Homo sapiens: one gene and its partners. The protein of the gene in region 4 purifies or fractionates together with the protein of the main gene of each other region. This does not show direct contact. Each region holds a gene or a part of one and is shown on either strand. Other genes may lie near its edges. The genes, in order: LONRF2, GAPVD1, FNBP1L and SNX24.

Region 1 (7,035 bases), on a different chromosome or scaffold from region 4:
AGATGAGGGGAAAGCAAGGTTAACACTGGAAATGCAAGCCTGTTCCCCAACACAGTCTTTTGCTCCACCAACAGACACGTGAGCAAGAATTAAATGCCACCTTGTATTTTAGGGCTAATTCACAATTCATTCAGCTCTCAAAATACATAGTTTACTTTTATGGTACACATTTAAAGGTGGGGGAACTCACAAAAGGAAGAGCCTGCAAAGAGAAGCATCTTCCATGGGGAGATTCTATGAATTAGTTGCTTCTGTTCTCTCAAGCTTTCAGTTAAGAGTATATACCAGTCAGAGGAGAATACTATCACTTTAACCTTCACTTTCCAATGTTCTGTGCTATTATTTTTTATGTCTTAAGCATGCCATATAAAGCATAATATTATAAAGGCTAAAAGTATGTGTACAAGTTTGAGTGACATACTCAATGTGGCAAATGAGTGTATGTATGAAACATATATATGTATGCATGTCATATGCAAGAGTTATCATAAATTATATATATAAGAATTATTATGCCACCAAATAACCTTTATTTCACATAATCAAACAAAGCACTTCTAGACTAAGTGCTAGGCAAAAGCCGATCATAAACTCGTTCTCAATATTCTTAGTACTGGAACCAAGATATCCAGGCCTTTTTGTTTCCAGGGTCTAGGATTCTTCACTCTATTCCTTCTCCAAAAATGTGCAGGATGCCGATAAGAGCTGGGAGGGTGAACTCTGGAGTCACCTTAGTTTAGGGTGAGGTAGATTATGCTGGAGGACTAGGAATAGCACTGTGGCCAAAGCTCACCAGGGGTAGCCCAAGTCACTGTGAGGAAGACATCAACCTGCCCTTCAGAGGTAGAAAGGCACAGATGGAGAAAACAACCTTTTATACAGATTCACACTCTTTTCCCTGCCTCATCTCACAGAGAAAGAAAAAAACTGAGTAGCACGCTTAATGGGAAGGACCTCATATAAAAATTGATGTATTACCTAAAATCCCTCTGTAGTCATGAGAAAAATGGTCCCCCATATGGTACCTTATATGGCAGAGGGAATTGGAGGATGTGATTCAGTTAAGGACTTTGGGATGGGGGGATTATCCTGATGGGCCCAATGTGTTCATATAGGGTCCTGTCTGGGCTGTGGTCAGAGGGACATGTGGCTTTGGAAGAACGGTCGGAGAGAAGCAACATTGCTGGCTCTGATGGAGGAAGGAAGCCGAGGAATGCCGCCAGCCTCTACAAGCTGCAGAGACAAGGAAACAGACTCTCCCCCACAACCTCCAAAGAGAAACGCATGCTGCCATCACCCTGATCATAGTCTGGCCTGCAGAACCAGGAGTGAAAGATAATACATATGTGTTGTTTTAAGCCACCACGTTCGTGAAATTTCTTAACAGCAGTAGTAGGAAGCTAATATACCCGCCAAGTAGAGATTGATTAATTTGGTTAATAAACAACAACTCCTAGGAAAAAGAATGACTCATATCCTAATGCAAGTCAGTGTAACCACCATGCTTTCTGAATCTGAGTTCCAGGATACTGCAGAACAAAGGCTTATGCAAAAAGGGCAAGCCAGGAAGGACTTAATGGCAATTTCTGGCAGTTAAAGCATTTTTCTGTGTTTGGAAAAAAAAAGAATTCAGGCAGGGGGTAAAAGATAGAAGCTCCAAGAGACAGAAAAAAAAAGTTAAAATGGATGGGAAAAGACCTTTCACATCACCCTAAACCAGCTGAGAGCCAATCCCCCTCCCCTACTGTCTTTGACAGCTGAGCATCCATGTACAGGTGGGAGGTATACACTCTCAGGCACAATCTTAAACCAGCCCAGCCTGGCTCTCCCATCTAATGCAGAGGAGAGGCCCACCTGAGCTTAGAAATGCTCCACAAACCTAAGCTCATTCATTGCTTAAAGAACCAGCTTCACCAAAAGTACTTGTAGGGAGCACCAGAGAAAGCCCATGACAGCTGGGCAGCAGGGTACTTAGAGGACAAGGAAGTCACGCTACTAATGTCACAAGAATGATGGGATTTTTCTCTTCACTTATTCAACATCTCTATACCAGGTGCAAGGCAATGCTATGCGCCAAACGTGGAATGTTCATGCCAATACAATAAAGTTACTACTTAAATTTTAAGATGTGAGTGAAAGAAGCAAAAGGCTACAAAAGCTGACAGCCAAGCAGAATAAACTGATTGTTGTTAGAAAAGAAATTATGTTCTGTTAGAGAGCCTTTGTTGTTTTGCTTCACAAGTCATGTGCTACCACAGTAGGTGCTCCTTTGGGCTGTTAGTAGATGAACTGGTTCATAAGCAACCACATTGGGGTAACCAGCATCATACTGCCAAGCTCTCCACCAGAATGATGGCTCAGCACACTACAGCAGGAAGTAACAGAATTATAAAGGAAAAAGGGAGGGCATACCTGAGGCTCAGGTTCTCTGTCTGGCATTACCCCAAAATGACTTAAAATTTGTTCTTTCATGCGATCCTGGAGAGACGCGAACCAGGAAACAGACTGTTGATGCACAGAATCGTGGAGAGCGGCAAGTTCTTCATACTCTGGACCCTCCACCTGATCAGGGAAAGAGGCACAGCTGTGTGAACCATTCACAGTAATGCACGTAACACAGTCAGCGACCTCTGCACCTCCACTAAGTGGATTTGTGGCAGTTAGCATTTTAATAATTCATCAGTTTCACAAAAATGGTACATGCTCAATATAGAAATCTGCATTTTTTGCATAGTTGAAATCTATCAATTGTATCCTGATTTTTCTCTTAATACCATAATATAAGCACATTTCCTGTAATTTTGAATAATGTTCAATGGCTGCATGCAATTATATATTTGAGATACATGCCAATTTACTTAACTATTCACGTAAGTTATTTAGAATATTCTAGCTTTTTTATTTTTAAAAATAACACAATAATATAAACATTTATGGAAAAGTTGTTTTGTTTTGTTTTGCTTTTTTGACAAGGGAGGGAGGTATGGTTTCCTCAGTGTAGTTTCCTAGAGACCTTGACAGAATTACCAAGTCAAAGGGTGACATTTTAAAAATTGTATTCCATATCACCAAACTATATTCCTAAAGGCACGACAGGGCAAGACTACACTCATTACATTGGCCTGGGCTGATGGACTCCAGCTTGTGGTCGGCCACAGCACCTTAGACTGACCAAGCTTGGCCTCTGGTCCCTATGTCACTATCACATCTGTCATTTAAATTACGCCTCAGTCCTGTTCAGGAACACCTGGTAGAGGAGGAAGAGCATGGGACTGGGAATCACGGGGCCAGGGTTTGGTCTGGCTTCATCACCAACTCTCATGTGTGAATCTAGCCAGTCTCACAGCCTCGTTAGGGCAGAGTTTTCTCATCTGCATAATAGGAATAAACCATGAAGGTCCTTTCCTGTTACAAAATTCCAGTACCTACAAAAACTACGGTGTGCTGAGAAATTATAATATAATGCATATACCACCCTCAATTTGATTTATACAAATCAAATATTCATATGTGATAGAGGATTTTCTTATAAAAATAAGCTAAAATTATTTCATGTTGTAGCTATTTAAGCCCCCATTTAAAATAAGCGCATACACTATTAAAAGCTGTCATCTACAACAACGGTCAATAAACCCTGCCGTCAGGTCTATCCATCCCACAGAGAGACCCTGAGAATTATCACTTTCAGCTGTAGCTTTGAAACCCAGCTTTCTGGTCCAGCCTGGGAGCTGGGCTCCCTGCTCTGCTCCCATGCACTGGGATGACCAGAAACAGCAGCTGGAGGAGGCACAGAGACAGTGTCCTGGGTGTGACTCCATTCACAAATCCTAAGTGTACACCACTGCCCCCAAAATGACTTCCAGTGTGATGTGGGGTGGCTACGTACCCTCACTTCCACAATTCCAAATGTCAACCAAAGAATTTAAAAGAGGGATACAATAATTCCAAGGATTTCCTCCTTTTAAGTATTTTAAAATTTCTTGCTGCAGTATAATTTACAGACCAAAAAGTGCATAGATCTTGTTGAGCTCAAAGAGTTTTCTCAACTGTATACACCAGTCTGACCATCACCCAAAACCAGATAGACATTTCCACTACTTAGAAAGATTCTTCACCACTCCCTCCAGTCAATTACAAAGCCAACCCCACAAGCCTTTTCTGACTTCTGTCCCCAGACTCTAGTTTTGCCTGTTCCTGGAAGTATACAGATGAAGCCACGCGGTATGTGTTCGTCCTGTGTCTGGCTTCTCTCACTTAGCATAATGTCTGTGAGAGTCATCCATATTGTTTCATGCACGAGTGGTTCATTTCTTTTTATTGACAGGTAGTATTCCATTGCATGAATGGACCACAATGTGTTTACTGACTCAAGTGTGATCAGCACCTGGGCTGTTCCTGGTTTGGGGCTATAATGGAGTAAGACTGTTATGGACATCCTTGTGTAAGTCTGTTGGAGAATCTCTCAAAACATTTTGCTAATTTGTCAAATTATATGTCCTGATATTTCTATTAGACACATGAAAAAATTCTTAAGGGTTAATAAATTCAAGTCTTTTATATTTAGCTTTGGGAGGTATTTTTTAAGTTGTAGATTTTGTCACATTCTGAATTAATACCAACCTAGAGAACAGGGACTGACAGACTGCTGTTCATGAGTCAAACCGTGCTCACCACCATGTTTCCGGAAGTCACATTTAACGGAAACCAGTCATGCTCATGCCTTTACACATTGTCTATGGCTGCTTTTGCACTACAAGGGCAGAACTGGGTAGCTTCGACAGAGACCACATGGCCTCTGGAGTCTAAAGTACTTATTAGCCGGCCCTTTACAGAAAAAGTTTGCCAGCTCCAGGGCTACAGCATCAAATACAAATCAAAAGCCTATTTTGCAATGCGCAGGTTTACATGTTGCATAAGTACAATAAGGTCTTTTTTTTTTTTTTTTTTTTTTTGAGATGGAGTCTTGCTCTGTCGCCCAGGCTGGAGTGCAGTGGCACGATCTCAGCTCACTGCAACCTTCAGCTCCCAGGTTCAAGCAATTCTCCTGCCTCAGCCTCCCAAGTAGCTGGGACTACAGGTGCCCGCCACCACACATGGTTAATTTTTTTATATTTTTAATAGAGCCAGGGTTTCACCGTATTAGCCAGGATGGTCTCAATCTCCTGACCTCGTGACCTGCCCACCTTGGCCTCCCAAAGTGCTGGGATTACAGGCGTGAGCCACCATGCCTGGCCAGATCATTTTTTTAAAAGGAGATTTCTGTACCAGCTCCCAACTCAGGTAAAAATCCACTGAGAAAATAAATAACTGCTGAAGGCAGGGGCTCATGCCTGTAGTCACAGCACTTTGGGGCTACTACACTTTGGTTGAGGTGGGAGGACTGCTTGAGCCCAGGAGTTTGAGACCAGCCTGGGAAACACAGGGAGACTCTGTTTCAACGACAAACAAAATTTAAATTAGCCATGTGTGGTGGTGTGCACCTACAGTCCCAGCTACTCGGGAGGCTAAAGCAGGAGGATCGTTTGAGCCTGGGAGGTCAAGGCTGCAGTGGGCCAAGATCATGCTGCTGCACTCTAGCCTGCACGACAGAACAAGACCTTGACTCAAAAATAAACAAATAGATAAATAAATAACTTAAGTGATGAATTAAGGACTTAAGTAATATTGTCAGTACAAGTTTGACAAAGCTTTTCCACAATGCAAAGGGAAGCGAGAGGACCGACTGCTATAAAATACACCAGTATGATAAGCCTTACCTTTTCATCTTCAAGATATTCAATGTCCGCTGTGTTATAGCCATCTCTGTGGCGGTGGCTTAGCACTCGGAACCGACTGATGCCAATCGCGTCTACAACAGAACTTCCATCAGGAAACGTTCTCACGTCCTTAATCTCCAGCATGCATCCATACTCTGAAAGCCTGAAAAGACAGTTAGGAGAAATGACTGTGATTTTTAAAATGCAGGGGGCCTTCTTTTTCCCTGGATGAGAGTTTACTTTTAAAAGGAATACAAAGCCACACAAAACAGTGTCTCCACATCAGACCAGCAAGGTTATTGTCGCTAAGAGACACGTGCACATGGTCGCTTCTGTTAGATGTTAAATATAGTGGTGATGGTGGCTGCAGGGGAAGGGCTCCAGGTGAGACAGGACTTGTGCCTTAGCGGTTCCAACGGGCTAGTGTTTTGGGAAGGACCCGAGAGATGGGAAGAGATGAAATCTCAAATGTGGCTCCTCAGCCACCTTGGCGGGGCACCATCAGGACTGCCCAGCTGGTGCCACGCACACACTCGGCTTTCCAAAGCTCTCCCCAGCTCTTACCCACACTCCGATTGTAACTATCACCCTTATCCTAGTGATATTCTCATGCTACCACGTGCCAAGCAACACACGGAGCAGTTTATAATACATATGAATTCAAGCCCACACTTAAAATTTGATTCATCAAAAGTCAACAAAGTGAAAAAACAAGCTATGAGTTCCATGTGCACTGAGAATATAGAACACTAAAAAGAATGTGAAAAACGACAAGGAAAACCAGATAAACCACAAAACATATGTCTCTTGAACCCACCAGAGGGTGGAGATTGCTCAGGGTAACCAAACAAAGATCCCACAGGGAGAGAGTAGGCAGAACCCAGGAAGAGACACAAAAGTGTGTAGGAAGCATTCAGCTATTTTTTTTTTAAACAAATTGCCAATGACCTTGTGTGGGCTGGCACCAGAGTGCAGGTCTGGAGAGCTGCACTCACAAAGGGAGTTTGCATCACACACAGGATCCTGTCCACAGATAAGAGCCTCCTTGATGAGTCATGCCCTGCAGTGAGGCAGGCTTGGAGGAGCTGACGTTTATCTGGAGGCCTCTGCTGGTGCTGGTTGCTGGGGCAGCAAGTCCTCCACCTTCAAAGGCACTCCGCTCCTCCTCCCTCCTGCCTTCGCCCACAAGGTCTTCACCTCATTCCAATTCTGCCAGCTCTGCCCTCCCCAACCAAAGTGCCGTGGAAAGCAGTCCCCGGCCACTGCCTTCATCTCCTTG
Region 2 (7,035 bases), on a different chromosome or scaffold from region 4:
TGGGTGGATCACGAGGTCAGGAGTTCAAGACCAGCCAGGCCAAGATGATGAAACCCCATCTCTACTAAAAATACAAAAATTAGCGGGGCATGGTGGCATACGCCTGTAATCCCAGCTACTCGGGAGGCTGAGGCAGGAGAATGGCTTGAACCCGGGAGGTGGAGGTTGCAGTGAGCCAAAATCGCACCACTGCACTCTAGCCTGGGTGACAGAGTGAGACTCTGTCTCAAAAGAAAAAAAAAAAAAAAATATATATATATATATATATATATATATATATATATATATATATATATATATATATGTATTTCCATGTTTTGATATTGTATAGCTATTTTTCGGGTTTAGAAACCACATTTTATTGTCTTAATACCTACGAAGAACATTTATTTTATTTTTTTTTTTTTTTGAGTTGGAGTCTCGCTCTGTCCCCCAGGCTGGAGTGCAGTGGCACAATCTCAGCTCACTGCAACCTCTGCCTCCTGGGTTCAAGAGATTCTCCTGCCTCAGCCTCCTGAGTAGCTGGGATTACAGACTTGTGCCACCATGCCTGGCTAATTTTTGTATTTTTAGTAGAGACGGGGTTTCACCATGTTGGTCAGACTGGTCTTGAACTTCTGACCTCGCAGTCTGCCCCCTCGGCCTCCCAAAGTGCTGGGATTATAGGTATGAGCCACCCTGCCTGGCCAAGAACAGTTTTTAACTCTAAGAATATCAGTGCTGTTGAGAATATAAGCCAGATGCAAAAGAATACATACTGTATGATTCTATTTGTATGAAGTTCAAAAAGAGACAGGACTGATCTTTGATGACAGAAATCAGAATAATGGTTACTTTTTGGGCTTGAGAGGGTGGTATTGACTGGGAAAGGGCACGTGAAAGCGTTCTTGGGTTTTTAAAATGTTCCATGTCTTAATCTGAGTGGTGATTACTGGGTGCATGTATGTGTAAAAATTGTTCAAGCTGAACACTTGACATTTGTGCACTTTACTGTATTTTACCTCAATAAAAATGAGTTTAAAAAAAAAAAAGAACAGTGCTGTTGTGGGCATTGTGGTTTTTTCCCCACATCTTTTAGGCTTATTTTATTTGGATTTGTTTCCAGAAGCAAAAAGCCTAGTTAAAGGATGTGATTCTGCAGGTCATTACATACTGGCATGTTGCTGTTGAGAATGGTTGAGCAATATGCTGATATCGACTTCATTTTTATTATTTTTTAGTACTTGAGTATTTGTAAACTTTCTTATGTCCATAAATAAGCATAAGCAGTTTAACTGTAGCTGATTTTTTTTTTTTTCAGACAGGATCTGGCTGTGTCGCCCAGGCTGAAATGCAGTGGTATGATCTTGAGTCACTGCTGTCTCAAGCTCCTGAGCTCAAGCGATTTTCCCACCTCAGCCTCCTGAGTGCTGGGCCTACAGGCACACGCCACCACATCTAGCTAATTTTCATATTTTTTTGTAGAGATGGGGTTTCACCATATTTTCCAGGCTGGTCTTGAACTCCTGGGCTCAAGTGATCCTCCCACCTTGGCCTCCCAAAGTCTGGGATTACAGGTGTGAGCCACTGTGTCCTTCCTGTAGCTAATTTTAATTTAATCCATAAGAGGGCAGCTCTGGACAGTTTTTAGGATCTACAAACTGATAATTTTCTTTCTTTCTTTCTTTTTTTTTTTCCAGACAGAGTCTTGCTTTGTTGGCCAGGGTGGAGTGCGGTGGCATGATTGCAGCTCACTGCAACCTCTACCTTCTGGGTTCAAGTGATTCTCCTGCCTCAATTTTCCAAGTAGCTGGGATTATAGGTGCCTGCCACCATGCCTGGCTAATTTTTGTATTTTTAGAAGAAATGGGAGTTTCGCCGTGTTGGCCAGGCTGGTCTCGACCTCCTGGCCTCAAGTGATTTGCCCGCCTCGGCCTCACAAAGTGCTGGGATTACAGGTCTGAGCCACCGCACCCAGCCCCAATACTTTTCATTGATTCTGATTTGATAAGAGGAAATTGTCCTTTGTACTTTTTAGTTTTGTTGTCCTTTACTCATTGAGTTGCTGTTAGTTTAAAAAATTTTAGCAATTCAGAGTGACCTCATTGTTGGGACCATAATCAACTCACATATCCATGTTTGGATATAGTATATGTGTTATTATTATTAATACTATTATTTTGCTTGTTTGCTCTTTTTTTTTTTTTTTTTAGTGCTGAAGCTTCCCCTGCTGAATGTTGCCAACATGCCAAAATTTTGGAAGATACACAATTTGTTGATGGGTATAAGCAATTGGGATTTCAGGAGACTGCTTATGGAGAATTCTTGAGTCGATTGAGGGAAAATCCTCGTCTTATTGCCTCCTCTTTGGTTGCTGGAGAGAAACTTAATCAGGAGAACACACAAAGTGTTATTTACACAGTTTTTACCTCCCTGTATGGCAATTGCATCATGCAAGAAGATGAAAGCTACCTCCTTCAGGTTTTGCGATACTTGATTGAATTTGAACTTAAAGAAAGTGACAACCCTAGGCGACTTTTGAGGAGAGGAACTTGTGCCTTCAGCATCTTATTTAAACTTTTTTCTGAAGGACTGTTTTCTGCCAAACTTTTCCTCACAGCCACTTTACATGAGCCAATTATGCAACTGCTTGTTGAAGATGAAGATCACCTGGAAACAGATCCAAACAAGCTAATTGAGAGGTTCTCTCCATCTCAGCAGGAAAAACTCTTTGGAGAGAAGGGCTCAGATAGATTCAGGCAAAAAGTTCAAGAAATGGTGGAGTCCAATGAAGCAAAGCTAGTGGCTTTGGTGAACAAATTTATTGGTTATCTCAAACAGAACACATATTGTTTTCCACATAGTTTAAGGTGGATCGTGTCTCAGATGTACAAAACCCTCTCCTGTGTAGATAGGCTGGAAGTTGGGGAGGTCAGGGCAATGTGTACTGATCTCCTGTTGGCCTGCTTCATTTGTCCTGCAGTTGTCAATCCAGAACAATATGGAATAATTTCCGATGCTCCTATTAATGAAGTAGCACGATTTAATCTGATGCAGGTATGCTTTTGCTATTATTATTAACGTGGCATTTAGTTTAAAATTCAGTTGATTGGGCTGTGGGGGTGGGAACAAATAATACGATGACAGTATTTGTATATTCTTACAACTTTTTCTCAACCAGTCCTAAGTATTTGCATCTTATTAAATAAAAGCAGTAATACTGGGATTTAAAATTATTGCGGTCACAAAACATTTTGTCTTTGTCTGTTTTTTGAGACAGGGTCTCACTCTGTTGCCCAGGCTGGAGTGCAGTGGCGCAATCTCAGCTCACTGCAACCTCCGCCTCCCGGGTTCAAGCAATTCTCCTGCTTCAGCCTCCTGAGTAGCTGGGATTACAGGCGCACACCACCGCCCTGGCTAATTTTTGTATTTTTAGCCATGGGGTTAAAATTTAGGTCAGGCTGGTCTTAAACTCCTGACCTCAGATGATCCGCCCACCTCGGCTTCCCAAAGTGCTGGGATTACAGGCGTGAGCCACCACTCCTGGCCTTGGGTGATTGTTAAAAAATGATTAGCTCAAGCTGGGTGTGGTGGCTCTCACCTGTAATCCCAGCACTTTGGGAGGCCAAGGTGGGTAGATCGTTTGACATCAGGAATTTGAGACCAGCCTCAGCAACATAGTGAGACCCCCAACTGCCCCATATCTATTAAAAAAAAAAAAAATTGGCCGGGTGCGGTGGCTTACGCCTGTAATCCCAGCACTTTGGGAGGCCGAGGCGGGCGGATCACCTGATGTCCAGAGTTTGAGACCAACCTGACCAACATGGAGAAACCCCATCTCTACTAAAAATACAAAATTAGCCAGGTGTGGTGTCACATGCCTGTAATCCCAGTTACTTGGGAGGCTGAGGCAGGAGAATTGCTTGAACCCGGGAGACAGAGGTTGCGATGAGCTGAGATTGCACCGTTGCACTCCAGCCTGGGCAACAAGAGCGAAACTCCGTCTCAAAAAAAAAAAAAAAATCAGAAAAAATGATTAGCTGTTTTTAATGATCAGTTATATCACCTTGGGATGTTTAGCAATTCACTGTATAGAAATGCCTGAAATAAAATTTTTAACTTTTTTTAATGTTTATAAATTTAAAAAAATTATAATATGGAACACTTCACAAATTTGTGTGTCATCCTTGCACAGGTGCCATGCTAATCTTCTCTGTAGAGTTCCAATTTTAGTATATGTGCTTCTGAAGCGAGCACAAAATTTTTGACATGAAACAGTAGGTTTTTTTTTGTTTGTCTGTTTGTTTTGAGATAGTCTCACTCTGTCACCCAGGCTGGAGTACAGTGGTGCCATCTTAGCTCTCTGTAGCCTTTGAACTCCTGAGCTCAAGTGACCCTTCTGCCTCACCCTCCTGAGTAGCTGGGACTACAGGTGTGTACCAGCACACCTCGCTCATTTAAAAAATGTTTTTGTAGAGACAGGGTCTTGCTTTGTTGTCCAGGCTGGTCTTGAACTCCTGGCCTCAGGTAATCCTCCTATTTTGGCCTCTCAAAGTGCTGGGATCATAGGCGTAAGCTACTGTGCCTGGCCCATGAAACACTTAAATTTATTCTTATGGTAGATAATGTATTTGTAGTTTTTTTTGTTTGTTTTTTTTGTCATTCCAGTAGAGATCAAATTACATATTTTCAGAATCAGTAAAAAGGGGGCTTGTCCCAGATATTAAGAAGAGGATGTTGTAATAACTTTCATCATTAGCCTTTAAAAAGAGTGCAGTAACAAATTTTGCCAGTAAGGTACTTGTTCTATGAATTAGTATTTACTTTATCAAACCAGCTTATGTTAGGAATCATTTGCTTTTAAATCTAGGGAAAAAATTATACCTTGATTGCTTTGTGAACGCTATAAGGTAATGTTCTTAATATTAACTTAAGGCAATTTAATGAATGAGTCAGCTTTTACAAATTAATTTAAAAAGCTCTAAACAAATGAAAAGTACAATGTCAGAAACAAATGTATTGTGCTTTTTTTCCCTAATGTTGATATCTTATGTGTTAAAGAGAAATTAAAGCAAAAATTTATACTTTCTCTAACTCTTAATCTAAAAATAGTAAAAGCTGACATAAGGTACACATTTTTTGGGGGATACTATTTCATATGCCTGGTCAGGTGATATGAATAGTATTATGAAACAGATTTTTAGAACAGAATAGACGTGCTTGCTTTCATAGAGACGTATTTGTGAGTATCTGTCTGTAGCTTATGTCTCCCTACCACTGCTTTGGGTTGCAGGTAGGCCGCCTTTTGCAGCAGTTAGCAATGACTGGCTCTGAAGAGGGAGATCCCCGAACAAAGAGCAGCCTTGGAAAGTTTGACAAAGTAAGAATAAATATGATTTATAGAAAATTCTGAAGTATTAGTGAGCCTAACTGTTCTCTTTATTAAATCTTGTCCTTAGGTGATATCTAAATTAAATGTTCTTTTAATTAGCTACAGTATTGGATCAGCAGCATTTAAAGATGATTAATTCCCACAGATGTATTGAGGAGATGCCGTCGTAAGAGAATCAAAGAGCTGTTAAGATTATTTTATTTTAAAAAGTTTTTTTTTTTTTTTTTTTTGAGATGGAGTCTCGCTCCGTCGCCCAGGCGGAGTGCAGTGGCATGATCTTGGCTCACTGCAACCTCTGCCTCCGGGTTCAAGCAACTCTCTGCCTCAGCCTCCCCAGTAACTGGGATCACAGGTGCCTGCCACTACACCCGGCTAATTTTTGTATTTTTAGTAGAGACGGGGTTTCACCTTCTTGGCCAGGCTGGTCTTGAACTCATGGCCTCGTGATCCACCTGCCTCGGCCTCCCAAAGTGCTAGGATTACAGGCGTGAGCCACCGCGCCTGGCCAACTTTTAAATTTTCGAGTCAGTGTCTCACTCTGTTGCCCAGGCTGGAGTGCAGTGGTGTGATCATGGCTCAAACTCCTGGGCTCATGCAGTCCTTGCACCTTAGCCTCCCAAGTACCTGGGCTATAGGGGCACACCACCATGCCCGGCTAAGTGTTTTTATTGTTATAGAGACGAGGTCTTGTTATGTTGCCCAGACTGGTCTTGACTCCTGGCCTCAAGTGATCCTCCTGCCTCAGCATTCCAGCGTGCTAGGATTACAGATGTCAGCCACCATGCCTGGTCGATAATTGTTTAATTTTAAGTGTAGTTTATAAGTTAACATCTATGACATTGTTCAATTAATATAGTTAAATAAAATTTTAATCAGTCTTACTTTGATTAAGCTGTACATTCAACCAATGAAAATTCAAGGATATTTGAGTAAAATTTCCCTTCCACGTCTCATCTCTAGTCTTCATTCCCTGCCCCCACAAAACATTCTTTTTTTTTTTGAGACAGAGTTTCCTTCTTGTCACAGAGGTTCGCTGTTGTCACCCAGGCTGGAGTGCAGTGGCGTGATCTCGGCTCACTGTTAACTCTGCCTCCCAGGTTCAAGCAATTCTCCTGCCTCAGCCTCCGAGTAGCTGGGATTATAGGCGTGAGCCACCACGCCTGGCCCCCAAAAGATTCTTGATGTTATTAGGTTGTTTTTCCTTCTAGAGGTCCATATGTTTACAGGCAAATTCCTACGTACACTATATACTTCCAACCATCCCTTCCTTTCCCTTTCAGAAATAGTAGCACAATGTGTATACTGTTCTGTGTTGTGTTATGTTTGTCTCCAACATCTTATTGTTATTTTCTTTTTTTTTTGAGACAGGGTCTCACTTTGTCACCCAGTGATGCCATCTCAGCTCACTGCAGCCTCGACCTCCCTGGCGCAAGCAGTCCTCCCACCTCAGCTTCCCAAGTAGCTGGGACTGCAGGTGCGCGCCACCACACCTGGCTAATTTTGGTATTTTTCATAGAGACAAGGTTTTGCCCTGTTGCCCCAAGTGGTTTTGAACTTCCGAGCTCAAGCAGTCCACCCACCTTGGCCTCCCAAAGTGCTGGGATTGCAGGCATGCACTACCACACCCAGCTCCAAGATCTTAGACTATATCAGTACAAAAAGAG
Region 3 (7,035 bases), on a different chromosome or scaffold from region 4:
TTACTTCTAATACAAAATGCTGCTTTGCTGAATTTCCTGAATTAAAAAAAAATTACAAGATTACAATATTCTAGGCACAAAGTATTATTCAGTAAATACACCTCACTATCACTCGGTCTAGACATAAAACAGAAAAACGTTCTAGACCCTTGTCTTCCATCATCCCAAATTTATCATCCTAAAATTCCTTAAGGGATCCATGCATATCCATGTTTAGTTCACACGCTTCAGGTGGATTGTTTCTATTCTGAATCTGGAGTGGCCCATCAGAGCAATCATCTATATAACCAGTTCACAAGAAGTCCTGTAACCTAATCAGATTTAAGAAATGCACAGAAACTTTTGCTTGGGACTCTTCGAAGAGAATTCACTCTGTCCCTTTTCTACTGGACTCGAAACCTGCAGGAATACTCGCCTAGAGCTTTGGAGCCTTAAAAGGAAGCCAACACAGTAGAAAGCACAGCTGTGAGGTGGAGAGAAATTGAGTCCTAGGGATAACATCTGAGCTCCTAGATCAAGCTCTCCCTGAAGTCAGCCAATGAAGTCCATTTTTAGTTTAAGCCAGCATGGGTAAAGTATTCATTCTGTCACTGAAAATTAAAAGATTCTCAACTAAAATAAAAAGTAAAGTAAATTTCCAACTAATCATGGTAACAGGGAAGTTGGTAACTTAAAAAAATCCAAAAAAGCAGGTAATACAAACACAATTTATTTTTCTTAAAATTTTTTAAATCAGAGAAAAATGTTAATAATTTTGCTGAAGAATCAAATGACTGAATTAGATTTAATAATGGAAAATTTTACAGAATTAGATTTTAACAGTACTTTCAGTAAGCCTGGAAGCCAGAGAAATAACACATGCCAAAGAAATTAGATCCTTTTAATCTGAGTTTTACCTAATAACAAAAACCAGTAATTTGTGGGTATCTCTTAACAGATTAAAGATATGTACTCTTTCAAGAAGTGATACTACTATTACCACTATTTACTACTAGGTGCTTTATGTGTATTATTTACTTTTTTACTAACAAACCTAAAGGGTGGATATTTTAACCTCCATTTTATATTTCAGGAAATTGAGACTTAGGGAGCATTAAAAATGAACTTGCTCAGATTACACTGTAATTAAGTAGAAAACTAAGAGTTGTTACTAGGCCTCTCACATTTTTCTCTAAGGTGAATCCTAATTTGTGGACTTTTAGTCTGGAAAAAAAGATATAATACATCAAGAAAGAAATGTCACAAGTGGTACAGAAACTTAGCAAAGTGTCTTTTGGAAGCTCTGGTCCAAACTAACAATACATTTTTTTTTCTTCACAAAACTCTGAGCTATTTGATAGTAAAATTTTTCTTTGGCATAAGCGACCCTAATTCCACTTGAACCTTAGGAAACCTTCCCATGCCCGAGGAGCCTAGGCCCTCAGACTGTAGCTCCAAGAATTTTCTATGTTCCTAGCTCTGTGTTTGGATGCATGACAAACTAGGATTGAATAGCAAGATGAACTTTCCTACTTCACCTGTAATTATCACTAAAGAAAATTACTTAGGTTCAAAAGACTGAGGTTACTAAAAGCTTAACTTGTTAAATTTGGAAGAAAAAAACGAATTGTATAAAGTTTAGGACAAAAGGGTGAGAAAACTCTGGGGAGAAGAAATACAAATAAAATACAAAAAATCACCTTTCTCGTCCCTGTGTTACAAGATGATTTATGTCACTGCTATGTCTTCTGTCTCCTCTCCCACCTGTTTTGCCTTCGACTTCAGAGAGCCAAGCCTTAGGAAAAAAAATAAGCAAACAACTGAGCTCAATAAATATGTTTAAAAGCTCATAAGATATCTACATTTAAAATGTGTTTAAGTTTTTATAATTATGTAATTCTTAGAGATGTGAAACCTTTATTCCAAACTGGTCAAAGGATCAACTTTATAGCTGATTCAAAAAAATAGTATAAATGTTTAATCTTATATAAAGGTCTAAATAAAAAACTTTAATGAGATTAAATAACACACATCACAATAATACTTTTAGATCATAAACCCTAACATTAAATATAAACATTTGAAGATAATTCTAACAAAAACCAATCTATCATAATGAAGTTTATAAAAATAATTTATCTTGACAAGTGCTGAATAACAAATCTACCTCATTCTTATGGATTTCCATTCGTAGGCGGTCAATGTTATTCATGGTCTCTGCTAATTTAGGCTGCAAACTCCCTGGATCCCCCATTTGTGGATTCTTCTCATATACATCTTTCATTTTGTTGAGTGCATCTCTAAAAAAGAGAAGGAACCCCAGAATTAAATATTAACTTCATATGCTTCCAGATAAAAGAGTTTTATTGGACTCTGGGGACTCGTACGCAGCTTAATCTTAAGTAGAGTCACATCTTTTTAAGTTTGTCTAACATGACCTGATTAAAGACAATTTGCATAAAGGTGATAACATATAGAGTTACTAATTTATGAAGACAATCAGAATACCAAAAGAGAACAGAGTTCATTTCTTACTTCCTGCTTTCTAAACAAGGAATTTTATTTATATGTACATATACACACACACACAAAATCAAGGGCTGGAAGAATATTCTTCAGCTCATCATGTCCCAAATCAAACTCATTATATTCCAACTCAGCCACACTATTCCACAGTGTTCCTTAGCTCATACATCATCATTGTCCTCCCACTCACCTCTGCTAGAAATAGGAATGGCAGCTTTAACTTGCCCCCACCCAAAGTCAGTCATTTGCCAATTCCTCTCAACCTACCTCCTATTCTCTAATCATATTACAATCGGTTGTGCCTCAATTAGCTGTCCTTGACTCTAACATCTGACACTATTGACTAACACTCCTTAATACTCTTTTCCTTCATGACTTCCTATAGGTTACATTTTCTTTTCCCTCCTCCTCACCTCTGCTTTCTCACAATCTCCCTCACTGCCTTCTTTCTCCTTCTTTGTTCAACCTTTAAATGTGTATTACATAAAATGACAAAGGTTTCTTCTCGTCTCTTCCTACAGTCTTGTTGGAGGATGATCTCTTAATTGTTTTAATATCATCCATCTTCAGATGATTTTCAAATGCATATCTCCAGACCTCTCTCTCCTGAATTCTAGATTCATATCTTTAAACCCAACTGGACACTTCTAATATGGATTTTTCACATTTCAAAAATCAACATAAACAAAATCTTTATCTTTGCCCTAAACTTTTTTCTTATTGTTGCAATTAAATCTATAGCTACAAATCTTTTTTTTTTTTTTAAGCTTCCTCCATGTTTTCTCTTCTCCAGCATCCAATCAGGTGAAAGTACAACCTACTTTGGCTTTGAAATGATTCTTTTATCTATTCCTCCTTTCTATTCCCATGGTCATGCCTTAATTTAGGCCCTCAGTATCTCTCACCTGGATTGTTAAAGGCTTCTACCTCCAATCTCTTTCCTATACTATTTACTCTTCATACAGTTTTCAATTATCTTTTATCACACAGAGCTAATAATGTTACCCCTTCTCTCAATAACTGGGGACTGTAGTACCTACAGAACTTCACAGAAAAGCATTCAGAATTTTTCACAAGTCCTATACTTCTTCATCCTCAACTTCTATTATTATGTTCCACATAATTTTTAACCAAGTCTCTCTGGATTAGCACTAATTCCAGTCCATGGCAAGAACATTCACATTTCTGTGCCTTTACTCTTGTTTTGGACATGGAGATATCTGGGAAAATTTGAGTCACCAGAGGTACATTCAAGTTCTAAACTGTGGTCAAACCAGTGACACTCTGGCCTTCTTGCTCGTATTCTCATATTCTGGACATGTATCCTTTTTGCAATCTACTCATTTAGTGCAATGTTTCTCATATTTTTATGCTTTTTGTTGATATTGGTGTTTAAAATAGCCCCTAAGCATGGCAATCAAGTGCTGTCTAGTGTTCTGAAGCACAAGAAGGCTGTACCTTACAGAGAAAATTCTAATCTTAGATAAGCTTTGTTCAAGCATGAGTTACAGTGCTATTAGAAAAAAATCAAAGTTAATAAATCAACATCATATATGAAATAAGGTGTTTTTACACAGAAACACAAATAAAAAAAGGTTATGTGCCAATCAGCTGACTGAAACATTGTGACCAGTGGCTACCTAGAACCTAACCCTGTATCTCCCTAAGAGCAATGTTTCAGTATTCCATAATTTAGTGTTCACAGTGACTTTACAGAACACAGCTACTGTGAATGAGAATCAAAGGTAGTGCAAATATTTCATTATGATTAAGCGCCACATCACACCTGATACACTAATTCTTAGCATCAAAACTTCAATCTCTCATGCTACAATTTAAGCCCCAATTTTATCGTAAGTGAAGACATAGCAAGTCACCAATTCATTGTAATAACACTTTAATGATCGTGAATAATTCTTCTATGTCTATTTTTAAAAAATTAAACTAGAGGAAACGTCTTATAAAAATGAAATAAAAAAGTAAACTTATGTGTGAACAAATATGAAGCCGTCAGTAATCAAGCACCGTTTGCCAAATGTTTTGCTACAAAATAGCCTCAGGTTGCTAATGAAATCAATTTATATATAAAAGCAAAATGAAAATATATCAAAGTATAAGAGGTAGTGCTGATGAAACTACTCTTGATAATAAAATATCAAGAAATTTTTTGCAAATTAATGAAGGCATATTAGCATTCAATAAAAATCTGCAACCAAGGAAATTCTCTAACCTATGACAGGGTAACCATAAAAATTTCCAGGGTAGGAGTATAATTCTCTCTCAAAAGATATTTCAATTAGGATATATGATTTTTAAACCTTCTGTATATCACATTTAAGGGCGTCACTCAAAGTAGATCCTAAAATAATAATGATAGAGAAAACTTAAAGGAATAATACTTTTGGTCTGATTCTTTCTGTAGTTCTCTGTTAAGTTCATCAATGCGCTGCTGTAGTTTTTTACGTCTCTGTTCTGGTGGCAGATGACTGAAATCTTCTAGTGCTGGGCCCTGAAAAGAGAATCTAAATCATTATAATAGACATTTTCGGGAAATTTTATTTTTAAAATATACCTGCTATAAAATAAGAATACATACCAATCTTAAGTTTAATTTCAAATTTGCCTCAAGCAACCCCTTAAAAAAAAAAGAAATCTACACAGATGTGTGTGTTTATGCGTATATGTTAATGAAAACAATGTACTGAAGAAAAGAGCTCAAATTTCAGTCATTTTATAAAACCATGAAACAGAATAAGTAAAATCATACCCAGATACAGATAACTGGTAGGTAGTATCACATTACTTTCAAATCTTGGCAGAGTTATAATGAATACATGTAAACCTTCTTACAGCAACAACAACAAAATGGAAACACGTAACATTCTTGTCTATACAGGGTATTGTTTTATATATAACATATCACAACATTTCCAAATAAAACCCATTGCCATGACATTCAGAATGTTACAAATGTTCAAACTGAAAATATGAATATAATTAAGAAACTTACCTCACAAAGACAATCTAATGAAATATACTTTAACACTACATATAGTCTTTGAACAACTGATTAAACCATTCAAAACATACCTGGTCATTAAAAACCAAAGATAGAACTATCCACTGAGCAGAAATTATATTCAAACAAGTGTATATTTTCAATTAACCTTTTGTAAACCAAATAACATACCTCAGTTGTTACTGAAAGAAGGATAAAATCCTTCTTTAGGAAAGATCCTTGATGTCTGAAAATTTTTTAAAGTTTTGATATTCAAAAAACTATGCAATTTAAGAAAAAGTACTAGTATTTAAACGTAAACATCTGATCCAAATGACACCTTTTCCCTTAAATGTTATTTTAATCACTGTTACTTATATTACAGATTACAACAGAACCAATATTAGCCGCTATTGAATCTATTTAATATAAACCTATATTACTTAAATCTTTATATATACTCCAGAAATTGATGATGCCTGTCACTATTCATTTTCTTTTCAAAATGGTTATTCTAAGAATAAGGCCAGGCGCAGTGGCTCACGCCTGTAATCCCAACACTTTGGGAGGCTGAGGCGGGTGGATCACCTAAGGTCAGGAGTTTGAGGCCAGACTGGAGCCTGGCCGACATGATGAAACCCTGTCTCTACTAAAAATACAATAAATTAGCCAGGCGTGGTGGCAGGCGCCTGTAATCCCAGCTACTCGTGAGAGGCTGAGGCAGGAGAATCACTTGAACCCGGAAGGCAGAGGTTGCAGTGAGCCAAGATCGCGCCATTGCACTCCAGGCTGGGCGACAAGAGCGAGACTCCGTCTTTTAAAAAAAAAAAAAAAAAAAAAAGGTAAAGAAAAGAAAAAAGAATATAAATATTCAAATTTGTTAAAGTGATGCTAAAAGGAGCTCTCAAAACAAATACGATCTTGCTCTTTGGGCCACTTATGCCTGTAACATATGCTAAATAGCTTTATTTCACCATGTGTAAGAATGAGTCACTTACTTTCAGAAAAGAGAAAACTCACTCCTAGGATGAGCTATAATTAAATGTAACATTTAATTAATAACAGAATCCCTAGCCTCTTTCCCCAGTGGCCTGTAGATTATGGATATTCAACAAGCTTGCTAGAAAAAAGTAGGGCATCCTAAGTGTTGCTTTTTTTTTTTTTTTTTTTTTTTCATTTACCAATCACCAGAAACAAGGATATCAATCAACCCAATCTGGCCTAAATAAATCAATGGTGAAATTTCCTTTGTTGAGTTCCTTTAGATTTACTGGTTAATTTGCAACATAAATTTGTCATATTTAATCTACTTTGGAGTTGAAGGTTTTTTGTAGAGATAGGGTCTCATTCTGTTGCCCACAATGGAATGCAGTTGAGTGATCATAGCTCTCATGGCTCACTATAGCCTCGAACTCCTGGGCTCAACCAATCCTCCCGCCTTAGCCTCCCAAATAGCTGGGATTACAGAAAAGGAGTACAAGTTTTGAAAACTAGTATATATATATGCCAAAAATAAACTTCTTAATTTAGAT
Region 4 (7,375 bases):
ACACCCGGCTAATTTTGCATTTTTAGTAGAGATGGGGTTTCTCCATGTTGGTCAGGCTGGTCTCAAACTCCCGACCTCAGGTGATCCAACTGCCTTGGCCTCCCAAAGTGCTGGGATTACAGGTGTGAGCCACCACGCCCGGCGGGCCAGTCAACTTCTAATGCAAAGATTGTTTCTTTTTCCCTCTCTAGAGGAAATATTCTCCAGATGTAGAGGGAACAATGGATCTTCCTGATTCTCAGTTTTTACCAAGACTCCTTATTTTAGCCAATTACCTTCCATTCTAGAGGTACCTATTGTTCCTTTTGTGGCGCCTTTTGAGTATTGTGCTGTGTAAATCAGGTTGGTTCTGTTTTTCCTGCTGTTGGTTTAAGATTGGGATTTCTCGTTTGCTAAAAATGTTTCTTCCCTTCTATCTGCTTTTCAGCTGACAAATGTCTTGCTCTCTCCTCTCCTATTTTTTCTATCTCTGTGGGTTTTTAAAAAAAGGGAAAAATTACTTGCGTTTATACTGGGGCTAGAAGGTTGAAATTAGTTATATATTTTCAATTTGCTATCTTAACTCAGAAACCTGTACAACAGTCCGGGCGCAGACACAGTGGCTTATGGCTGTAATCCCAGCACTTTGGGAGGCCGGTGGGGGTGAATCACTTGAGGTCAGGAGTTCAAGACCAGCCTGGCCAACATGGTGAAACTCTGTCTCTAAAATACAAAAATTAGTCAGACGTGGTGGCACGTGCCTGTAGTCCGAGGCAGAAGAATCGCTTGAACCCAGGAGGTGGAGGTTGCAGTGAACTAAGATCACGCCATTGCACTCCAGCCTGGGCGTCTCAGCAAGACCTCATCTCAAAAAAAAAAAAAAAAAAAAATCTGTACAACAGTCTTTTTAAATGCAACTCATATTTTTTTTTTTTTTTTTGAGACAGGGTCTTGCTGAGATGCCCAGGCTGGGATTACAGCCATGAGCCACTGTACCCGCGCCTGACCTGTTGTACAGGTTTCTGAGTTAAGATAGCAAAGGTATCTGAAGCGTTTCTTTCCAAATTTTTGCTCATATTGAAGTAATTCTTTTTTAAAAACTGCCAGTACACTAAAAATTAATGTCAGCATTTCTGAAACTTAACTTTCCTCCTTTCACTACTTTCTCATTTCTTCTCTCCTTCATTAACAGAAAATCTGCTTTTACCTCATCACATCTAAATCCTCCAATTTATGCCTGTCCCCTCTCTCTTGCCTTCATTTCTCTCAACGTAACCTTCCCCCTTGATGTTCTCTCAAAGCAGATTGTTAAAGAAGTGAACCCAGCCCCTTAATTCTTTCTCTCATATGCTCTTTTGCCCTTCTGCTATGAGATGACCTTCACAGATGCCAGGGCCATGTTCTTCGACTTCCCAGGTTCTGAGCCAAATAATCTTCTATTCTTTATAAATTACCCAGTCGGTGATATCCTGTTCCATCAGCAGAAAAGGGACTAAGACATTAATCTATCAAATTAAAGATATTTCTTGCTACTTCTAGCCTAAGAATTTGTGTGAATAGTTGTACTGTTTCATTAATTTTTTCCAGAATCTATTGGGATATTTTTTAATCTGACAATATTGTGAAATACATCAAAAGATGTCCTAATGTTTAGCCATCTTTACATTTCTGGGATAAATCTTACTTTGTCATGATGTATTAATCTTATAACTGAATGCTGAACGTATAATATATTCGATTTACATTTTAGTCAAAACTTCTAAATGTTAGTGTTAAAGCAGTTTATCTCAATTTGTTGAAGTATATTTCTACCCAATACTAAGTAAATGTACTTTTAGTGTAAGAATTTTATGCCCAGATTCCAGCAGAATTTTGTTATTTTGCTCCTGAAAATTGTTTGCTTCTATTAATAGATACTAACTGTTCAATGTTTTATATTTGTATTTAGCATGCATTTTTATTAATGTTTTGAGGAAAAGATATTTAGCTGGCCTGTTACAGACTGTAGAGTTGGATTAAAAGATAACATAGGAACAACAGGAAAATACATTTGCCATGTTCTTTTACTTTGGTGCTCTATTCTCCCTTTCCTCGGTGGCTGGAAGACTCAGAGAATTTGGTTAGAAATTTAGTTCTTCTAATTATTAGCTAGTAATTTCATACTTACTCTCCGTGAGCCTGAATTACGCCATCTATAATAACTGAAATCGTAACAATTACCATTTATGGCTGGGCTAATAGACCCTCAAGAACACACCCACACATTGATAGTTTGTATACATTTTCAGCAAGGGAAAAGTAAATTATACACAGCTATTAGTGGAATACAGCAAATGGATATCATTTGGACCATTTATCAGACCTTCATGGAATCACACATTTCTGCCTAAGTCCAACAGGTAAATGGGTGAGCCATGCCATTACCAAAATATATATTTTAGGCTACTAACAGGTTGTAGGATATTATGGAAAGCATATTAAAAACTTGATTCTTGGGAGGCTGAGGTGGGAGGCCCTTGAAACTCATGTTGTGTCTTATCATAACGCTTCCTCATGTGACTGGTTTTTTGTTTTGTTTTTGTTTTTTGAGACAGGGTCTTGCTCTGTCACCCAAGCTGGAGTGCAGTGGCGTGATCTCGGCTTACTGCAGCCTCCGCCTCATGGGTTCAAGCAATTCTCCCACTCAGCCTCTCAAGTAGCTGGGATTACAGGGGTGAGTAACCACCCTGTAATCTGGCTAATTTTTGCATTTTTAGTAGAGACAGGGTTTCATCATGTTGGCCAGGCTGATCTCAAACTCTTGACTTCAGGTGATACACCCACCTCGGCCTCCCAAAGTGCTGGGATGACAGGCATGAGCCACCGCGCCCGGCCATGTGATTGTTATAGAGATGAAATGAGACATTATGTGATACCGAACATAGTACCTGCTGCATTCCACTAGTTTTGTAAAGACGAGTACTTACGTAAGTTACGTGCTGGGTACTATGCCAACCACGAGATGACGAGTTTTTAAAAGCATGCTTGCCCTAAAACCTAGTAGGTAGGGTAGATAAATAAATCATACATACAGTGTATAGTCACCAGAGGCTTAAGGTAACCTACAAGCTGGGCTCTGAACTCAGATAGCTTATCGTCCGCAGAGCTGGTTAGTTACCTCAGGAGGTGCTGGCCAGAAGTGAAAGAAAGGTGTGTAGTCACAGGGCACAGCTAAGGCACAGTTTTGAGAGAAGGGCACATCCTGGAGCTGCAAATGTGTGAGTGCTGGGTTAGGAGGACGGATCTTCAGATGAGACTAATGTAGAGGGGTCCACATCAGGTAAGTTCCTAAAACGAGAAGCTGCCTTATCCCTCTGTTGCACGGCTCAGGGTCCCATCATAAAGTCTAGAGTTTGCTAAGCTGAAATGTCCTCTGCACTCAAGGACAAACGGAGTTAAGTGCAATTGTTTACAGTCCAAGAAAGCTCGCTGGCTGGTTTTTTCCTGGATGGCTGAGGTCACTTCTCAGTGACCTACAAGTCACGTCCACGTTTCTATTCTGCTCGGTGCGCTAACCTAAAGAAGAAACCCAACGTTTACTTGACTAACTTGATAATCAAGCCTCCCCCGCCGGGACACTTAATCTTTTAGGTACCTTCAGCCTACTAGACCCTGGTCCGAGGCACGGGTTCAGTCCTTTTTTTTTCCGTATTCTATTTTTCCCTCACAGTTAAAAAGTACTTCACAGTTAAAGGCGGCATTTTAGAACTGCAGCGTGAAGCCAGAGCGTTTGTCTTAGTGACCGGCCAACTTTCGGGCTCACTTTCGAGCTCTGTGGTACACCACCATTCTCAGATTCGACGTCTAACTCAGGAGACGCTGACCTTCGAATCGAAGGGAATTCGGAGAGTCTTGGTATAAGCCGGCTGGTTCACCGCTGTTAATGCCAGCCGAGAGGGAAAAAAAAAATTCAACCAACCAAAACAAAAGTTAAAAGCGCCACTCTTTCTATTCTTTGCTGTCTGGCAATCTCTTAATGGTGGCGTCTAGCAAACTGCAAATCAAGCTCCAGCCGGAGTCCGCAGGGCAGGGAGCGCCGGGTGCGGCCCAGTCCCCGCGCCCAGCGCGTTGGCGCGCACACCCCGTTTCTGCAGACTCAGGTTTTCTGGCCCCGCCTCTTTCGGGCCCAGCTGATCTCCACCGCCCGTTAGGCCCGAAACCCAGGCGCCTGGAGCCCTGCGCCCTCTGCTTCCGGCCCCCGGCACGCCCAGGGCGCGGGAGCGGCCGGGTCAGCCCGCAGACCTGAGTCCGGCCCGCAGCCTCGGGGCCCCGCGGGCGCAGCGGGGCGGGAGGCGGGGCGGCCCGGCCGTGGGCGGAGCGGCGGCCGCGGCCGTGAGCCTGCCCCCAACTCGCCCTCAGCCGGCTGGCCGGCGCGGCCATGGAGGTCTACATCCCGTCCTTTCGCTATGAAGAGAGCGACCTGGAGCGGGGATACACGGTAGGCGCGGGCCGCGGGCGGACAGGGCCCCGCGAGCCAGGCCTGCGGCTGCTGCGCCCAGGAAACACCCTTGGCCGCCGCCGCCTTGGCGCAGGGGGTCCCCTCGTTTTCTCTCCCCTCCCCCGGCCCAGAGGAAGGGCTGCGCCCTTGGCGCGGTTGTCAAGGAAACGGGCGCCCCTCCCGGGCACGGCGGCTGCGGGCGCCCCTAGCCCCTCGGGGTCCAACCCTCTCCTCCCGGACGAGCTGCAGTCCTCGGACGCGGCACTAGCCATTCTCCCCGCCGCCCGCCTTCGGGAGCCCAGGATGGGCTGCGTTCCTTTCTGGCACAGCTGCCCCCTCAGTCCAGACAGTAGTAGCTTCGCGGCAGATTCACGCTGGCTTCCAAGTTCTGTACAATTAGTTCAGCTGGAAAACCTGTTTTTTTTTTTTAAATCATAATTTGCAGCTGTTTATTAGCCAAACTAAACACGTGTATTGATTTTAGATGATTTCCAAAGATTTTTCTTTTTGAGTTGTGCAGTTCCATGAAATGGCAAAATTACTTGCTGAGCACCTGTTTCATACCTAGGACTGTGGTCACCGAGAAGTGTGAAACAGGACCCCTGCTCTCAAGAGTGAAGGGGAGGGCAGAGACCAGGGCATGGGCCCTTTGAGCAACACGTTTACTAAGTGAATTGTTGGTGGAGATTTCCCAATGAATTCAAAACATTCTTTCCTGGACAGTCATTGCTAGTGGGAGAAATGTCTGAGTGTGTGTACACCTTGGAAGAATTTACTTCCAGTTGTTAAAGAACCTGTAGGGTTGAAGAAAGATTGCAGGGCAGTCTGAAAGATTTGTTATTTTATTTACATCAATCACACACTTGCTAAACACCAGTTACATTACTTTGATGGAGAATATTTTAACCCCTCTCCCCTCCTCTAAATATTACTGGTATTTGGTGACAGTCTGTTTGGGCCATTGTGTTTTCTTAGTTGGGACTAAATTACCCTCTCAAAGGAAGATTTAGAATGAAAAACAGTGATTGAAAAAATAGTCCAGGAAGTCGGTGGGTTTTTAGAATTGAGTAGACTGCTGGATCCAAGTGTTCTGAAACAAGTTGTTAAAGTGCTTTCCTTGGGAAGGAAAATGCAGGGAGAGGGAGCTGTGTTCCATAGTGGTAGTTATTTATATAAATAATCCTTTCCAGTGCATTCACATTTCGTTAAATAGTCTGTATCTTCCTTAAAAACAAACAAACAAACCCTCGAGTTTGTTCAAGGCTTTTTTTTTTTTTTCTTGGAGATTTTATCCAAGTCTCTTAAGCCTAAAACCTTGCTTGTTGTTGCTTCTCCCAGGTATCTCACTTCTCCCATCAGCACTATCAACAGTCATGGAGGGCTTACCATCTTTGGGACATTCATTTAGGATCTGAAGATAAAAAGGCTGCTTGTTAGAGGCGTTGGCTTTCAAAGAAAAGATGAAGTTGATCTTACCGGTTCAAGCTAAAAGTTAATTACCTGCAGAAATAAGCACTTTGAAATAGACCATAATTAAGGCTCATTGCCCATTGTTGATTTTCTTCTATTAGACGAGCTGTGCTTTTCTCCCAAAGCTTTATGTATCTTTTTATTATTTGTATTTATGACCAGGCATGTGCCACACTCCAGGTTGTGAATTAAACTGATGTGGAAGGAGCTCTTTTTTGGACAAATTCGGGAGAGTTTGAAGATTGCTTATGTGATGAGAGTTTGCTCTTTAAATATTTGCTTAAAAAAAATCCTAACTCATCCAGATTGGGAGCTAAACTGTTAAAATCTCTCTCTCTCTTTTTTTTTTTGAGACAGTCTTCCTCTGTCACCCAGGCTGGAGTGCAGTGGGGTGATCTCAGCTCACTGCAACCTCTGCCTCCTGGGCTCATGTAATCCTTCCACCTCAGCCCCTGGAGTAGCTGGGACTACAGGCACATGGCACCACTCCTGGATAATTTTTAAATTTTTTGTAGAGACAGGGTTTCTCCATGTTGCCCAGGCTAGTCTTGAACTCCTGTGCTCAAGCAAACCATCTGCCTAGGCCTCCCAAAGTGCTGGGATAACAGGCATGAGCCACCACACCCAGCCCTAAAATACCTTCTGAAGGGATTTTTTTGCTTCTGTGAGTTTGTGAAGCAGTTATTAGATACTTTTCCCCTCTGCACAACTGGTTTTATGATTGTACAGCGGTTTTTCATTCAACAAATATTTACTGAGTGCCTGCTCTGTGTCTGTATTCTGGGTGTAGGGAATATAGCAGTGAATAAGCTATGAATATAGCAGCTTAAAAAAAACCCCAGAATTTAAAAAATATTTCAGTTTCCTAAATAAGAAGCTTGTAAAATAATGTACACTTTCGTGTAAAAAATATCTTTTTACTTTAGCGATTATGTTTGTGTGAATGTGTGTTTTTAAGAGCTAGGATCTTGCTCTGTCACCCAGGCTGGAGTGCAGTGGCGCAATCCTAGCTCACAGCAGCCTTGGACTCTTGGGCTCAAGTGATCCTTCCCCCTTGGCCTCTTGAGTAGCACAGGCATAAATCACCACAACTGGCTAATTTTTGTATTTTTTGTAGAGATGGGATCTCACTATATTGCACTGGCTAGTCTCAAACTCCTAGGTTTAAGGGATCCTCCCACCTTGACCTCCCAAAGTGCTGGGATTATAGGCGCGGGCCACTGAGCCCGACCTGTGTTTGTGTTTAAAATTTAAAACGGCCGGGGCGTGGTGGCTCATGCCTGTAATCCCAGCACTTTGGGAGGCCGAGGTGGGCGGATCACTTGAGGTCAGGAGGCGAGACCAGCCTGGCCAACATGGTGAAATCCCATCTCTACTTAAAAAAAAAAAAAAAAAATTAGCCAGGCGTGGTGGCGGGCGCGGGTAATCCCAGCTACTTGGGAGGCTGAT

What was found.
Region 1: the proteins of SNX24 (region 4) and LONRF2 purify together in Homo sapiens (affinity purification with mass spectrometry; 2 studies listed by BioGRID and IntAct, with this or other methods). This does not show direct contact.
Region 2: the proteins of SNX24 (region 4) and GAPVD1 purify together in Homo sapiens (affinity purification with mass spectrometry; 2 studies listed by BioGRID and IntAct, with this or other methods). This does not show direct contact.
Region 3: the proteins of SNX24 (region 4) and FNBP1L purify together in Homo sapiens (affinity purification with mass spectrometry; 2 studies listed by BioGRID and IntAct, with this or other methods). This does not show direct contact.

What each region holds. Positions count from the first base shown.
Region 1 is NC_000002.12:100,284,502-100,291,536, forward strand, and holds part of LONRF2 (LON peptidase N-terminal domain and RING finger protein 2), read right to left. Parts: intron 5,920-7,035; coding exon 5,757-5,919; intron 2,563-5,756; coding exon 2,413-2,562; intron 1-2,412.
Region 2 is NC_000009.12:125,299,791-125,306,825, forward strand, and holds part of GAPVD1 (GTPase-activating protein and VPS9 domain-containing protein 1), read left to right. Parts: intron 1-2,192; coding exon 2,193-3,036; intron 3,037-5,272; coding exon 5,273-5,359; intron 5,360-7,035. UniProt on the Homo sapiens protein: Acts both as a GTPase-activating protein (GAP) and a guanine nucleotide exchange factor (GEF), and participates in various processes such as endocytosis, insulin receptor internalization or LC2A4/GLUT4 trafficking.
Region 3 is NC_000001.11:93,542,086-93,549,120, reverse strand, and holds part of FNBP1L (formin-binding protein 1-like), read right to left. Parts: intron 5,015-7,035; coding exon 4,905-5,014; intron 2,280-4,904; coding exon 2,147-2,279; intron 1,775-2,146; coding exon 1,680-1,774; intron 1-1,679. UniProt on the Homo sapiens protein: Required to coordinate membrane tubulation with reorganization of the actin cytoskeleton during endocytosis. May bind to lipids such as phosphatidylinositol 4,5-bisphosphate and phosphatidylserine and promote membrane invagination and the formation of tubules.
Region 4 is NC_000005.10:122,841,238-122,848,612, forward strand, and holds the start of SNX24 (sorting nexin-24), read left to right. Parts: upstream 1-4,375; 5' UTR 4,376-4,396; coding exon 4,397-4,456; intron 4,457-7,375. UniProt on the Homo sapiens protein: May be involved in several stages of intracellular trafficking.